4 linked regions of the Homo sapiens genome follow. The protein of the gene in region 1 purifies or fractionates together with the protein of each later gene. This does not show direct contact. Each region holds a gene or a part of one and is shown on either strand. Other genes may lie near its edges.

The links. The genes of interacting proteins can lie anywhere in the genome.
Region 2: the proteins of ATP2A1 (region 1) and TVP23C purify together in Homo sapiens (affinity purification with mass spectrometry, with the first as the bait; one large-scale study listed by BioGRID). This does not show direct contact.
Region 3: the proteins of ATP2A1 (region 1) and FAR2 purify together in Homo sapiens (affinity purification with mass spectrometry; one large-scale study listed by BioGRID and IntAct). This does not show direct contact.
Region 4: the proteins of ATP2A1 (region 1) and TIFAB purify together in Homo sapiens (tandem affinity purification; one large-scale study listed by IntAct). This does not show direct contact.

What each region holds. Positions count from the first base shown.
Region 1 is NC_000016.10:28,881,488-28,884,987, forward strand, and holds part of ATP2A1 (sarcoplasmic/endoplasmic reticulum calcium ATPase 1), read left to right. Parts: intron 1-963; coding exon 964-1,102; intron 1,103-3,087; coding exon 3,088-3,168; intron 3,169-3,500. UniProt on the Homo sapiens protein: Key regulator of striated muscle performance by acting as the major Ca(2+) ATPase responsible for the reuptake of cytosolic Ca(2+) into the sarcoplasmic reticulum.
Region 2 is NC_000017.11:15,546,484-15,549,983, forward strand, and holds part of TVP23C (Golgi apparatus membrane protein TVP23 homolog C), read right to left. Parts: intron 666-3,500; coding exon 576-665; intron 1-575. Other genes in the region: TVP23C-CDRT4 (uncharacterized protein LOC100533496), read right to left, coding at 576-665.
Region 3 is NC_000012.12:29,327,278-29,330,777, reverse strand, and holds part of FAR2 (fatty acyl-CoA reductase 2), read right to left. Parts: intron 1-3,500. UniProt on the Homo sapiens protein: Catalyzes the reduction of saturated but not unsaturated C16 or C18 fatty acyl-CoA to fatty alcohols (FAls). A lower activity can be observed with shorter fatty acyl-CoA substrates.
Region 4 is NC_000005.10:135,449,552-135,453,834, forward strand, and holds the start of TIFAB (TRAF-interacting protein with FHA domain-containing protein B), read right to left. Parts: upstream 2,801-4,283; 5' UTR 2,658-2,800; intron 1,172-2,657; exon of another isoform or gene 949-1,171; intron 399-948; 5' UTR 389-398; coding exon 1-388. UniProt on the Homo sapiens protein: Inhibits TIFA-mediated TRAF6 activation possibly by inducing a conformational change in TIFA.

The DNA of each region.
Region 1 (3,500 bases):
GGCTATAAGCCATTTTTTGGTGCTCACTGGTTTCTGAACACTGAGGATAGAAATAGCCACTTTCATACTTTGGGAGGCCGAGGCGGGTGGATCAGTTGAGGTCAGGAGTTCAAGAGTAGCCTGGCCAACATGGTAAAACCCCATCTCTACTAAAAATACAAAAAAATTAGCTGGGCATGGTGGCAGGTGCCTGTAATCCCAGCTACTCAGGAGGCTGAGGCAGGAGAATCACTTGAATGGGGAGGCGGAGGTTGCAGTGAGCCAAGATTGCACAATTGCACTCCAGCATGGGCAACAGAGTGAGACCCAGTCTCAAAAAAAAAAAAAAGAGAGAAATAGCACTTTCTCTTTGCCCCAGTGTTACAGGCGCAGCAGAGCCACCTGTGTCTGTGGTGCTGACAGGTCCAGGACAGCATCTGCAGGGCAGCCTCTGATTTTCTTTGATTTTTTATTTAGATTTTTCTTTTTGAGACAGGGTCTCGTTCTCTTGCCCAGGCTGGAGTGCAGTGGCGTAATCTCATCTCACTGCAATCTCTGCCTCCAGGTTCTGGTGATTCTCGTGCCTCAGCCTCCCAAGTAGCTGGGATTACAGGCGCGTGCTACTACGCCCGGCTTTTTTTTTTTTTTTTTTTTTTTTTTGTACTTTTCGTAGAGACGGACGGGGTTTCACCATGTTGTCCAGGCTGGTCTCGAACTCCTGACTTCAAGTGATCCGCCTGCCTCAGCCTCCCAGAGTGCTGGGATTACAGGCGTGAGTCACCATGCCCGGCCTGATTTTCTTTGATTCTTCTTTGTTCCCTCCCCAAAACCCTCTCACCTGTTTTCACCTGTAGGTGACAGTTTCCTCAACATACACACACCCCTGCCTGTGTGGGGTTTTGTTGCCTCCCCCGTGCCAGGAGCCACAACTCCATAACTCTGCCTCCTGTGTATAACCCTGCCTCCTCCACCCTGTCTCCTCAGGAGCGGAACGCAGAGAACGCCATCGAGGCCCTGAAGGAGTATGAGCCAGAGATGGGGAAGGTCTACCGGGCTGACCGCAAGTCAGTGCAAAGGATCAAGGCTCGGGACATCGTCCCTGGGGACATCGTGGAGGTGGCTGGTGAGTGACAGGGACGGCTGGTCCAGGATGGGAGGCCTTGGGGCTGAGGCCTAGGAGATGCCGGGGGCTGGTCAGGCTCGGATCCAGGTGTCCAGGAGGATGACGGAGTCTGCTTCTCTTTCCGACTCCTCAGAAGGTCATCCCAGGCCACTCCGGCCACATCCCCCCCTCCCCAGCGGAGTCTCAGCAGGAACAGCCAGTCCTGTCCCTGAGGCTGCAGGCAGACCCCCTGCTCCCCATCCTCTCACCCTGCACTTGCACTCGCAGGCAACAGGTGGAACCCGGTCCCTGCCAATGGCCCCGTCTCCACCCCCTCCCGGGCCTGGCTTCCCCCTCCTTCCACCCACCCCAAGCTTGGTCAGCTTTCAGTCTTGACCTCTCTGTGCCCTTGAGGCCTCTCAAAGGGGAAGGAGCGAGGGCAGAAGGGAGGAGGGAGGCCGAAGGCTCGAGCCCCCGACCATGTAAGGGAAACTCAGGCCTGGCACAGAGCACGCGACCGGGGAGGAGGGAGCTCAAGGAGGGCCCCGCCCGCGGCAAGGGACACTTAATGCCTGGCCAGGGAGGGGTGGGGGCCGGGTGGCTAAGATTACTGGGATTCTGCCCCCTTCAGCGGTTTTTATGTTTGCCCTGAGCAGGCCTTCCCGAAGCTCCAGGCCCCTGCCAGGGGGAATGGCTCTTCAGAGGCCTCCTTCCCTGTAGCAGACATCCGAATCACCACCCCAGGGAGCTTGGGCAGAGGGAGTGAGGGCAGGCTGAAGACCCCAGCGCCCCATCACAGGGCAGCCTTGCCGCCGTGACAGCATGGAGTCAGCGCCATGAATGTCTATAAATATCACGCGGGCTTGGGTGACAGGGTGTCCCGCCCGACTCTATCCCGACCTCCCTCCTCCCTCCTCGGTCCATTTCCTCTGGCACAGGAGGGATCCTTAGAAACAGAGGGAAAGGAAAGCGATTGGACCCTGTCCCCAGTACCATCCGTGGGACCAGTGCGGAATTAGGCAGCGGCCCTGGGAGATTCTTAGCCTCCTCCTAAGGTCTCTGAGTCTGGCTGGGCATCCACCTCTCCAGCCCCCCGACAAGGTGGTTTCCATGGCCTGCCAGCCCACCTGTGCGTCTCCCTGGCCTCACCTCCACCCATTCACTCTCCAGCCTGTGCTGCCCGCCCCACTCTTCCACACCTGTTTCCTGCCCAACCCCCGCTTCTCTCCTGTCCCATCCCATCCTGTCTTGTCCATGTCCCCAGCTCACTCTCCCTGGCTCCCCGCCTCCCTGCCTCCCTGAGATGCTCAGACCGGGCTGTCAGGTTCCCGATATGTGGTCCTCTCCATGACCACCCTGTGCCCCCCGCTGCCTTGAGTCCTGCCCACTCATACCTTCCGCTCACTCCTCTCCTGCCTTGCCCTCCACTGTTCCTCTTGGTTGCCCTCGATTTTCTCAATTTCCATATTTTCCCGTTTCTCCTTGCCTTCCCTGGCTGTCCACTTCATTCTCTCACCCCGACACCCCTTCTCTCTAATGCACCCTGTTTTCCCTGAGTTCTTTCCTTGCCTTTCCTCCTTGCCTTTCTCACTCCTGTCTCCCAATCTCAATTATAGCTTCTTGTCCTACAGCTGGACTGTCCCTAATTTCCCCTCCAGTCATTCAGTGGGCATTTATTGAGCATGTACTATGTGCTGAGCAGTACACCTGCCCATCCCTTCTCAGGGCTCACAGCCAGTGGGAAGAGATGTGGGAGTTCAAGACCAGCCTGAGCAACAGAGCGAGACTCCATCTCGCCGTGGACACGGGGGCAGAAGGGATGGGTGTCACGATGAGGGGTTGCCAGCTTCAGGAGCTCAAGCCAAGGGCCTGATGCAAGCCCTGGGAGCCTCCCTGAGACCTGAAGGATGGATGAGGAGAACGAGTCAGACACAGATTGGGTTTTTCTTTGGAAGGAAGAAAATTCCATTCCCAAGTGACCTCCCTCTTCCCTACTCTCTCCACAGTGGGGGACAAAGTCCCTGCAGACATCCGAATCCTCGCCATCAAATCCACCACGCTGCGGGTTGACCAGTCCATCCTGACAGGTCTGCTGGCCTGGGTGGGAAGATGCATGGGGGTGGGACGTGGGGAGGAAGAGGCAACAAGGGGGAGGTGAGTGGAAAGACAGAGAACCCTCACTGTCTGAGCAACATAAAGAGACCCTGTCTCTACAAAAAAATTTTAAAAACTAGCTGAGCATGTTGTTGAGTGCCTGTAGTCCTGACTACTCAGGATGCTGAGGCAGGAGGATCGCCTGGGTACAGGAGGTCAAGGCAGCAGTGAGCTGTGATCACACCACTGCACTCCATCCTGGGCCACCCTGTCTCTGTCAAAATAAAAACAAAAGGCTGTGCGAGGTGGCTCATGCCTGTAATCC
Region 2 (3,500 bases), on another chromosome or scaffold:
GTACTGTCGCCAAGAATTTGGTCCTCTGCTTCCAAAACTTATTTCCACAAGGAAAGTGAATATTCACTATAGTGTAGCAGGCTAACCCAAAACAGACCAGGATCCCCAGGGCTCCTGAAGGCAGAAGCTTAGGAATAGAGTGCTCCAATCAGATATTCTATCCAGCTGCACTCCTCCTCCTTTTTCCTGCCCAGAAATGAAAGACGACCACAGGAGCAAAGACAGAACAAGATGTTAAAAGCAGTTATCTGCTGAGCATAGAGGGATTTATGGAGACACTAACAAAGGCAACACAGAGATCTTTTATCAGCAATCCCTGACAGGCAGCTTAGCACACTGTATGAACTCAGACCCAGTGTCTTCCCTCAAAGGATTCTGTTCGTATATTGCTTGTTTCTGGTCTGAACTAGACAGAAAAATGCATTAAATTCTAGAAGGCCATCTCCTTTAGTGCTGACATGCCAAGTGATTTGGTATAGTGTTTTTAATTCTGAATACTTCATCTTCCAGTATTTAAATATAGTCTACAAATAATTTAGCTGATAACATTATTTAAAACAAAAAAGGCACTTTACCTTTCTAGATTCAAACACCCAATGGCTCTTTCCATCTTCATCAATGTGATTCCACCAACGTAGGCCAACCATTAGTCTACCTGTGACATTCTGGTGAAGATTAATATAAACAGGCACATTTTAAAAGCATTATTTAAAGATCTGTCACAAGCTCCTATCTTAGTGTAACATTTCACAAACAAAAACCTTCAGCTTTACCTCCATAATATCCAGTTAGCAAAGACTACTATGTATCAGGCCTGGCTAAACGATTAAGTAAAATGGTAATGGCAGGACTAATAGGGGTAGAGGTGACAGAGCAAGCAACAAGTCCACCCATAAACATTACACCTTCTCTTTTCCCTCATGAACAATTTGCCCTTTCTCCAGTTCCCTAATTTTCCCTAAACCCCTTGCTATTTGGTTACTGTGACCTACTTTACATCCTGACTATAGCTACATATATTTTACAACTACATATCCCTGAAAATGATTATAGACACTGGCCTTCAGTCAGTCTCTCAAGTGTACCAAGCTCTTTTCCTACTTACTAAGGTAACAAATTAGTTTGATAGCTTTCCTAATCTTTATTTACTCAACAAATATTTACTGAGCATCTACTATGTGCTGGTAATACAACAGTGACTAACAGATACCAACTCCTTCCTCAGGGAAAGAGGTGAAGAGAGGCAGACAACCAATGCACAAATGTACCATTACCAACTGAGTTAAGTCCTGCAAGGGAAAAGTGTGGGATGCTTGAAGAGTATAACAGGGAAATTTGATCTAGTCTGGGTATCAGAAAATGACTCTCTGAGGAGTCAACATTTGGAATGAAATATAAAAGATAAATAAGAATCAACAGTACCATGGATGTTTAATTAATGGTGTCCACTAATAGATTCAGTGGTTCTGTGAACCTCGATGGGTAAAAAAAAATGTTACCTTCATTTTCATTAACCTCTGGCTAAAATTTAGCATATCTTTAAATTATGAATGTAGACAACAAACTATGAATGTAGGTAAAATTAAAAACACCCTGACACAATAGAAATCACAGGCATTTTTTTATTTTGTACTATATTTGCTGCAGTTACCTCAAAATATTGTAGTTTTGTTTTTTGTTTGGTTTTGTTTTTTGTTTTTGAGACAGAGTTTCGCTCTTGTTGCCCAGGCTGGCATGCAACGGGGCGATCTCAGCTCACCACAACCTCTGCCTCCCGGGTTCAAACGATTCTCCTGCCTCAGCCTCCCAAGTAGCAGGGATTACAGGCATGCGCCATCATGCCCAGCTAATTTTGTATTTTTAGTAGAGATGGGGTTTCTCCATGTCGGTCAGGTTGGTCTCGAACTCCCAACCTCAGTGATTCACCCGCCTTGGCCTCCCAAAGTGCTGGGATTACAGGTGTAAGCCACCACGCACGGCCTCAAAATACTATTTATGCTCACCACTGCTTTGAAAGTAGTTAGCATATCATTAAATTATGAATGTAGACAACAAACTATGAACATAGGTAAAATTAAAAACACCCTGACACAATAGAAACCACAGACATTTTTCATTTTGTACTATACTTGCTGCAGTTATCTTAACATATTGTTTATGCTCACCACTGCTTTGAAAGTAGTTATTAGACCTGCCACTAGATCTTACCATTAATAAATTCATAAAGTATAGTAGTCCTCCCTTATCTGCAGGGGATACATTCCAAGACCCCCAGCAGATGCCTCAAATTGTGGTTAATACCAAACCTTATATATGCTATATTTTTTCCTATAAGTACATACCTATGATAATGCTTAATTTATAAATAATGCACAGTAAGAGAATAAGAAATAAAAATAGAACAATTATAACAACATAATCTAATAAAAGTTATGTGAATGTAGTTCTCTCTCCTCACACAGTATCTTACTGTTTAGCGTAGCATATAGCAGTACTGAAACCGCAGAAAGCGAAACCTCAGATAATGGGGGAACTACTACACATATAACTCAATCAGAAATTTACTTTTTTAATATTTTTAAATTATATTTCAATATAAGTGACTTCCTTTGAAATCTTATGTATTTTATATATGTGAAAACTTATTCATGAGTTTATGAAAGGGGCCCATGGCATAAAAAGATTAGGAATCCCTGTATGAAGGTGATGTGGGAGGAAGAAGAGCATTCCAGATAGAGCAGCAGGCACTGATGCCCTAATGAAGAAAGTACAATCTATGGATTTATGGGACTTGGTCATTAATTGGATATGGAGTAGGAAGGAGGCAACTGATACATTTACGGTTTGCTCAAGTAAAAAAATAGTGATTCCAGGCCCCACGAAAGGGAACACTCAAAGAAGAAGAGCTTTTGGGGAGTGGAAGATGACAAGTAGTATTTTACACATGTTAAGATATAAGATGCCTGGCCAGGCATGGTGGCTCACTTGGGTTCAAGACCAGCCTGGCTAACATAGTGAAACCCTGCCTCTACTAAAAATACAAAAATTCGCTAGGGATGGTGGTGCATGCCTGTAGTCTCAGCTATCTAGGAGGGTGAGGCAGGAGAATCACTTGAACCCCGGGAGGCAGAGGTTGCAGTGAGCCAAGATCACACCACTGCATTCCAGCTTGCGTGACAAAGCAAGATTTTGTCTCAAAAAAAAAAAAAAGATTTGAGATGCCTTCAAGACAGCCACATAAAAACGTCAAGAAGACACATGGAGAGGCCTTAAGTTGTGAGGACAAACCTGAATGGAGATACAGATCTGGGAGGCAACACAGCTTACAGATCAGCAATTCAAACCAGAAGCACAGACAGCACTCCTTAGGAAGGGAATACAGGAGAAGAAAAGGAAGAGTCTTATGAGACCAAAATTCCTATGGGAGAGATGCTAAGTAAAAAAAAAAAAGAGCTGGCAAGGGAGACCTAAACCAGAGGTCTCTTCTATAGGTATTTTCA
Region 3 (3,500 bases), on another chromosome or scaffold:
TAAAGGTCAAGTTTGTTAACTTTAAAATGGCTACACGATTTTCTGAGAATCTCTTGGGTTTAATTCATAAATTGCATCTTTCCTCCAGAGTCTATATTTAGCTCTTTTTCTCTTCAGGAAATATTACACTTCTAAAGAATGTAATTGAATTTGACATCTTAAAGATTTAGTAGTTCTCTAAGGCTACTCGATTCTTTCTCCTTTATATGCAAATTAAATGTTATATTTTAATCACAGAAAACCATCTTAGAACTCGGAGGAAAGTAACTAAATATTATTATCCCTATTTAACATTCTAGGCATTCAGTAAACATTTAATAATGAGCCCTTTGCTGATTCATTGTGCATATTGCTTTTGCTTTATCCTCTCAACTTGCATGGAGAAACATGACAAGAAATAACTTTTTAAAAATCATAAATGGGCCAGGCGTGGTGGCTCATGCCTGTAATCTCAACACTTTGGGAGGTCGAGGCGGGCAGATCACCTGAGGTCAGGAGTTCAAGACCCGCCTGACCAATATCGTGATACCCCGTCTGTACTAAAAATACAAAAATTAGCCAGGCGTCGTGGCATGCGCCTGTAGTCGCAGCTACTTGGGAGGTTGAGACAGGAGACGCGCTTGAACCCGGGAGGCGGAGGTTGCAGTGAGCCAAGATCTTGCCACTGCACTCCAGCCTGGGCAACAGAGCAAGACATGGTCTCAAAAAAAAAAAAAAAAAAGTCATAAATGTATTTGCTTTAGATAACTTTTTCTAATTCATTCTTCCTTTTGAACAACGAGTCCTATGAAACTATATTTTCCTTTTCACTTTACTACCAGAAAGCTCAAGAACAAATTCACTGCTTAAATTAACTACAGCAACTTAGTAGGATCTTGTAGATTATGTATGGGCATTCTCTTTTTAAATTTTTAGCTGTGACTTCATATTCTGATTCATATTTTCCTTGGTTTTGCATTTTATTTTATTTCTATTTTGTTCTTTCATTATATGTATTTTTTTGCAAGATACCTCAAACCTTTGTGAGATTTGGAGTATTAATAAAGAGAGCAGATGCGATTGTTCCAGAGAGCTTCAAAGACTTGTCCAAAAGCTGAATTGCTTTTTGAAAGAAATTCCATTATCACTTTGATTGGATATGGTTTTCATAGTATCATTAATATTGCTTAGTCATTCATATAAGCAGAGGCTTTTATTTTTATAGTGTTTAACATTTCTAAGTTTGATTTCAAAGTGGCCCTGTTCAGAATCCTGATTCCATATGGCAATTCAAACTGAATTTTGAGCCACACCAGAATTTGGTAATTACATTTAGTACTATTACTTTTGCTAAGATATTTTTGAGAGCATATGTTAAATCCACTGAAGCTTTGATTCTTTTTCATAAAATTTTGAAAGGTTAAAATAGTAAAATGTCAGAAATGAAACCAAGCTCATTACCTTTTGAGTTATTTCGGCAGGAAAATTCCATGGAGAAAATACATAAGGATAAGCCTACATAGAGTTTAAAGCTAAATTTTAAAAGAACTTACAATAGCTTGAATTTGTTGATTTGTTTTTGATTTATAAACTGGCTTAATCATCATTTCAAACACTAGTTTGAAGAATTTTGTCTATATGTGATATGTAAACATTTCTGAATAACTATTTCATGTCACTTTGAGAGGGAGCAATGATTTCAGATAAAATATCCCTCTAAATCTTGCCTTTTGTGCCTAATATAATATTTATTGTATTTGACATGGATAATGCTTAGGAAATAATTCTAGGGCTTGGATTTGAATCACACTCAGTAAGTTTGGTATGTAGAAGTGAAACCCTTAGCTGGCAAGCAAGGTCAGTTAGCCATCTGATATATTGTTTTTTTTTCTTTTTTTTAATTATTATTATATTTTAAGTTTTAGGATACGTGTGCATAACGTGCAGGCTTGTTACATATGTATACATGTGCCATGTTGGTGTGCTGCACGCATTAACTCGTCATTTAGCATTACGTATATCTCCTAATGCTATCCCTCCCCCCTCCCCCCACTCCACAACAGGCCCCGGTGTGTGATGTTCCCCTTCCTGTGTCCATGTGTTCTCATTGTTCAATTCCCACCTATGAGTGAGAACATGCGGTGTTTGGTTTTTTGTCCTTGCGATAGTTTGCTGAGAATGATGGTTTCCAGCTTCATCCATGTCCCTACAAAGGACATGAACTCATTTTTTATGGTTGCATAGTATTCCATGGTGTATATGTGCCACATTTTCTTTATCCAGTCCATCATTGTTGGACATTTGGGTTGGTTCCAAGTCTTTGCCATTGTGACTAGTGCCACAATAAACATATGTCTTTATAGCAGCATGATTTATAATCCTTTGGGTATATACCCAGTAATGGGATGGCTGGGTCAAATGGTATTTCTAGCTCTAGATCCCTGAGGAATCGCCACACCAACTTCCACAATGGTTGAACTAGTTTACAGTCCCACCAACAGTGTAAAAGTGTTCCTATTTCTCCACATCCTCTCCAGCATCTGTTGTTTCCTGACTTTTTAATGATTGCCATTCTAACTGGTGTGAGATGGTATCTCATTGTGGTTTTGATTTGCATTTCTCTGATGGCCAGTGATGATGAGCATTTTTTCATGTGTTTTTTGGCTGCATAAATGTCTTCTTTTGAGAAGTGTCTGTTCATATCCTTAGCCCACTTTTTGATGGGGTTGTTTGTTTTTTTCTTGTAAATTTGTTTGAGTTCATTGTAGATTCTGGATATTAGCCCTTTGTCAGATGAGTAGGTTGCAAAAATTTTCTCCCATTCTGTAGGTTGCCTGTTTACTCTGATGGTGGTTTCTTTTGCTGTGCAGAAGCTCTTTAGTTTAATTAGATCCCATTTGTCAATTTTGGCTTTTGTTGCCATTGCTTTTGGTGTTTTAGACATGAAGTCCTTCCCCATGCCTGTGTCCTGAATGGTATTGCCTAGGTTTTCTTCTAGGGTTTTTATGGTTTTAGGTCTAACGTGTAAGTCTTTAATCCATCTTGAATTGATTTTTGTATAAGGTGTAAGGAAGGGATCCAGTTTCAGCTTTCTCCATATGGCTAGCCAGTTTTCCCAGCACCATTTATTAAATAGGGAATCCTTTCCCCATTTCTTGTTTTTGTCAGGTTTGTCAAAGATCAGATAGTTGTAGATATGCAGCATTGTTTCTGAGGGCTCTGTTCTGTTCCATTGGTCTCTATCTCTGTTTTGGTGCCAGTACCATGCTGTTTTGGTTACTGTAGCCTTGTAGTATAGTTTGAAGTCAGGTAGCCTGATGCCTCCAGTTTTGTTCTTTTGGTTTAGGATTGACTTGGCAATGCGGGCTCTTTTTTGGTTCCATATGAACTTTAAAGTAGTTTTTTCCAATTCTGTGAAGAAAGTCTTTGGTAGCTTGATGGGGATGGCATTGAATCTATAAATTACCTTGGGCAGTATGGCCATTTTCACGATATTGATTCTTCCTACCCATGAGCATGGA
Region 4 (4,283 bases), on another chromosome or scaffold:
GGAAATAGCAGACAAAAGCCTCCAGGGATGTGCCTTCTTCTACGCGAACCAGCATCTGGATGCCTGAGAAGGAGACCCTGTTGACGGTGCTCAGGGGGACCTGCTCCAGGTACCTCAGCGTCAGCCCATTGACCCACACACAGCCCTTGCGGCTCAGGGCCTTGAGGCAGAAGGCCAGCAGGGCACTGCCTTTCTCCAGGTAGGGCTCCAGGGACAGGTGACGGCGGGAGAGGCGAGGGAGCTGCAGCTGGAGGTGGGCGTCCTGCCCCCGTCCGAGAAGCAGAGGGCTGGTATCATGCTGCAGCCGTGGTGGGACATTGGCAAAGGCAGATGGGCCCAGCGTGGGATGGTACAGGCTCACTCGCAGGACGGTGAGGGGCTTCTCCATGGAAGAAGTCCTGGGAAGTTGGAACATGGACACACAGGCTCAGCTTCAGTCAGAGACCTCTGTGGCTCCCTGAGCCCAGACACACTTGCCCACCTCAGGGGCCCTGTGCCTGTTCATACAATCACTCTGCCCAAGCCAGGATGGAGCCAAGGCTGGAATTGGTGTGGAAGGTCATGAGCTTAGTCTCTCTCATACTCTGAATAGAACATGCCACCCACTCTGTCTGACTTTTGGATTTCTGTAGTATAGATATATCTGTCCTTGTCTATGCAAGGGATAAGGCATGCTGGCTTGCAGGGTGGGGATTTGGTAATCTTTTGGTTATTTGGAGACAACTTGGCCCTGCTTCTTGGAAAGGAAAGGGTAGACAGACTGGCTACATTTTCCTTGTATCTGACAGTCACACAACAAACCCTTGCTGAATCCTCCTTTGAGCCAAGCAGGGAACCAGCTGCTGGGGAGAAGCAGATTCAACAACGAACCGAGCCCTGACTCTTGGGAGCACCCACTGGTGGAGGAGAGAGGTGTTTCTAGCATCAGGATGTGTGGAAGGACACAGAAGGAGGATGCTTAGCCTAGTCCTGGCCACCAGAAAGGCTGCCTAGAAACCCTGGTGAAGAGTAAACAGCTAGCACATTCCGAGTGGTTACTATGGGCACTTGCTGGAAGGCCACTCACAATGGCCAGCTTTGTTCCTGCATGGGTTTGAGGAACACAAACTCTGCTATGTCCACCAGCACCCTGTGGCCCAGGACCTGCCATCATCTTCAACAGGAACCAAGGGTTGAGTGGATTTGAATAACTAATTATACATTCTCTGGGTACCAGGCTTTTGCTCACATTATTTCTCTCCTAAGAATGCATCTTCCATCCCAAACTCTGTGTCCAAATACTGCCCACGGTTCAAGGCCCTGTTCAAGTGTTACCTCTCCTGTGAAGCTCCCTTCCCTGGGGAAGGTGACCTTTCGCTGCCTTCTGACTCCCACAACAGGGGGAATCCCCCAGGACACCTGGCCAACCTTACTCTCCATTCATTCCATCTTTGCATTTCATGCCCAAGTTCTGTGGGCCCTTGTCCTGTCTTCCCTGAGTTCCTCTCTTCCTGCCCCTGAGGCCTCCCAAGGGCTGGGTATGGTCTGGGCTGTGGTTCTTGCTGCCCCATGTTCCACTGCCCCATACAAATAGGGCCTGGCCACCATAAATGTCCAGGGGCACATTTGCCGAGTGGCTAAATGAGAAGCCCACACACACACATGGTGAAATCACCCAGAGAGACCACAAATGGGATCATGTCTCAAAGGCTGTGGGACAGCGAGCCTGTTGCAGGTGGCTTGAACTCAATGTCCCTCCAGGTCTTGAACCTGCTGCCCCTCCTGCCTTTTAGATGCAGTAGGTTAATGGCTGAGACCTTTTAGTCTGATAGTGAGGGCACCCTTTCACTATCAGAGGCCTGAGGGCACCCCCTTTCCCCTAAGGCACAGACACACATATGCCTCTACCCACACCCCATCTGGCCATAGTCTGCCGAAAGCCTTTCTTTTTTTTCTTTTTTTTTTTTTTCTGAGATGGAGTCTCACACTGTCACCCAGGCTGGAGTATAGCGGCATGATCTTGGCTCATGGTAGCCTCCGTCTTCCAGGTTCAAGGGATTCTCCTGCCTCAGCCTCCCCAGTAGCTGGGATTACAGGTGCCCGCCACCATGCCCAGCTAATTTTTGTATTTTCAGTAGAGACGGGGTTTCGCCATGTTGGCCAGGCTGGTCTCGAACTCCTGACTTTAGGTGATCCGCCCGCCCCGACCTTCCAAAGTGCTGGGATTACAGGCGTAAGCCACCACGCCCAGCCAGAAAGCCTTTTCTCGAGGTATGCGTTACAGGCTGAGCCCAGGACAGGTGGGCTGGGCAACCCATGCTGTCAGGCCTGGCTGGAAACTCAAGAGTTCACTCCCAGAAACTAATATCACGGCACAGAGACCCTGAAAGAATCCCTCAGGAAGAAAGATTCACAGTTGCTGTGTGGCCTTACTCTCTGCTCCAACCAGAGCTAACAGAAATCTCCCACTAAAGAGGAGCCCATCCACGACAGGCTGTCCCGTGTCTTTTGGATCCCAGGTGTTCTGGGGAAACAGAAACCCAGCCCTACAAATCCAGCCTTTGGGACGGGGCAGGAGGAAGACACTCCAGAATGTGTGTCTCAGGGGAGCCCTCCTCCCAGCCCCACCAGGCCCTCCCTTCTCCCCATGGGTTCAAGCCCCTCTGGCTTCAACTTACCTTATTGCCGGGGCACATCTGGCTCTAGTCCTGCAGCTGTGAGCTCTTGAGAGGGAGTAGGCTGGTTTGGGTAGGGCTGGGAGGGCTCCTATGGCTGCAGTTCAGGAACGTGGCAGAACATACTTCAGTTTTGTTGCATTCTTCCTTTTTCCCTTTAGGAAAGAAAATAGAAGTGTAATTTTTCATTGCAGAAGTGCAATTCCACTGCTGAGAGTTTGAGAAACCCCAGCGTGGGGCCCCTTCTGAGACAGATGGCCTGCCTTCCTGGGTTTCAGTTCTGCCAGCCTCTCCTACCCCACCCCCAGGGACCTTAGGACCTGCACCCAGGGTATCTGCAAAGTTCCTCTCCACCTGCCAGTAGGATGGGGTCAAAGCAGCCCAGGCATGTTAGAAAAGAAGAGCTTTTTGGGACAGATGGCTACGGGACAGGAGAGTCCCCTGAGTGTGGGAGAATGAGGAGAGCGTTCTGGCTGGATAGAGGTTGGCCAAGGAAACTGTAGGCAACATGGCACTTCCCTGAGGGTCTCAGGAGAGGGCAGGGCCTGGGGACGGGGAGGATGGAGAGGGCAGTAAATGGCCACTCATAGAACATGATCTCTCCTGCAGAACAGTGAGAAGGTGGTCTCTCATGCCCACTCCCCATCGCCCGAGCTCTGCCTATTTGCATGCAGTTTGGAAGGGGTGAAGATGGTCGCTTGTCCAGCACTGCGGGCTCTGGCTGCCCTGGAATGTGAAGGTGCTAACCCTTCACGTAGCCCAGCATTTCATAGTCCACCAGTGTGTTCAAGTCACCTGCGTTATCTCCTAGGAGTTTTATAGTTCTATACGTACATTTTAATTTTTCTGACATGTGTAAGGTTTGTGTCTAGATTTTTTTTTTTTTTGGCTTATAGGTGTTCAGTTGTCTCAGCACCATTTTCCGAAATGACCATGTTTTTTTTCCTTCAGTGTTTTCTCTTTACTCCTTTGTCAAAGATTGGTTGACTGTATTCATGTGGGTTTATTTCTGGGCTCTCTACTTTGTATCATTGATCTATTTGTCTATTTTTTCACCAATACCTTACTGTCTTGATTGCTGCAGCTCTGTAGTAAGTCTTGAAGTTGGGTACTGCCAGTCCTTCAATTCTGTTCTTCTCTTTCAATTTTGTCTTGGCTCTTTTGAGTTGTCTGTCTATATAAATGTTAGAATCAGTTTGTTAATAGCCACAAAATAACTCGCTGGGATTTTGACGAGACTTCATCAAATCTATCAATAAAGGAGGGAAGAACTGACATCCTGACAGTATTGAATCTTCCTATTCATGGACATGGGATATCTCTCTATTTGTTCAGTTCTTTGATTTCCTTCATCATAGTTTCATGGGTTTCCTCATATAGATCTTGTATATGTTTTGTTAGATTTATACAGAAATATTTCTTTTTTGAATATTAATGGAAATGGCATTGTGTTTTTTATTTCAAATTCCACTTGTTCATTGCTGGCATATAGGAAAGTAATTGATTTTATGTATTAATCTTGTATCCTGCAATCGTCCGTTAATCACTTACTAGTTCCAGGAGCTTTTTTGTCAATTCCTTTGGATTTTCTACATGGACAATTACGTCATCTGCAAATAAAGACAGTTT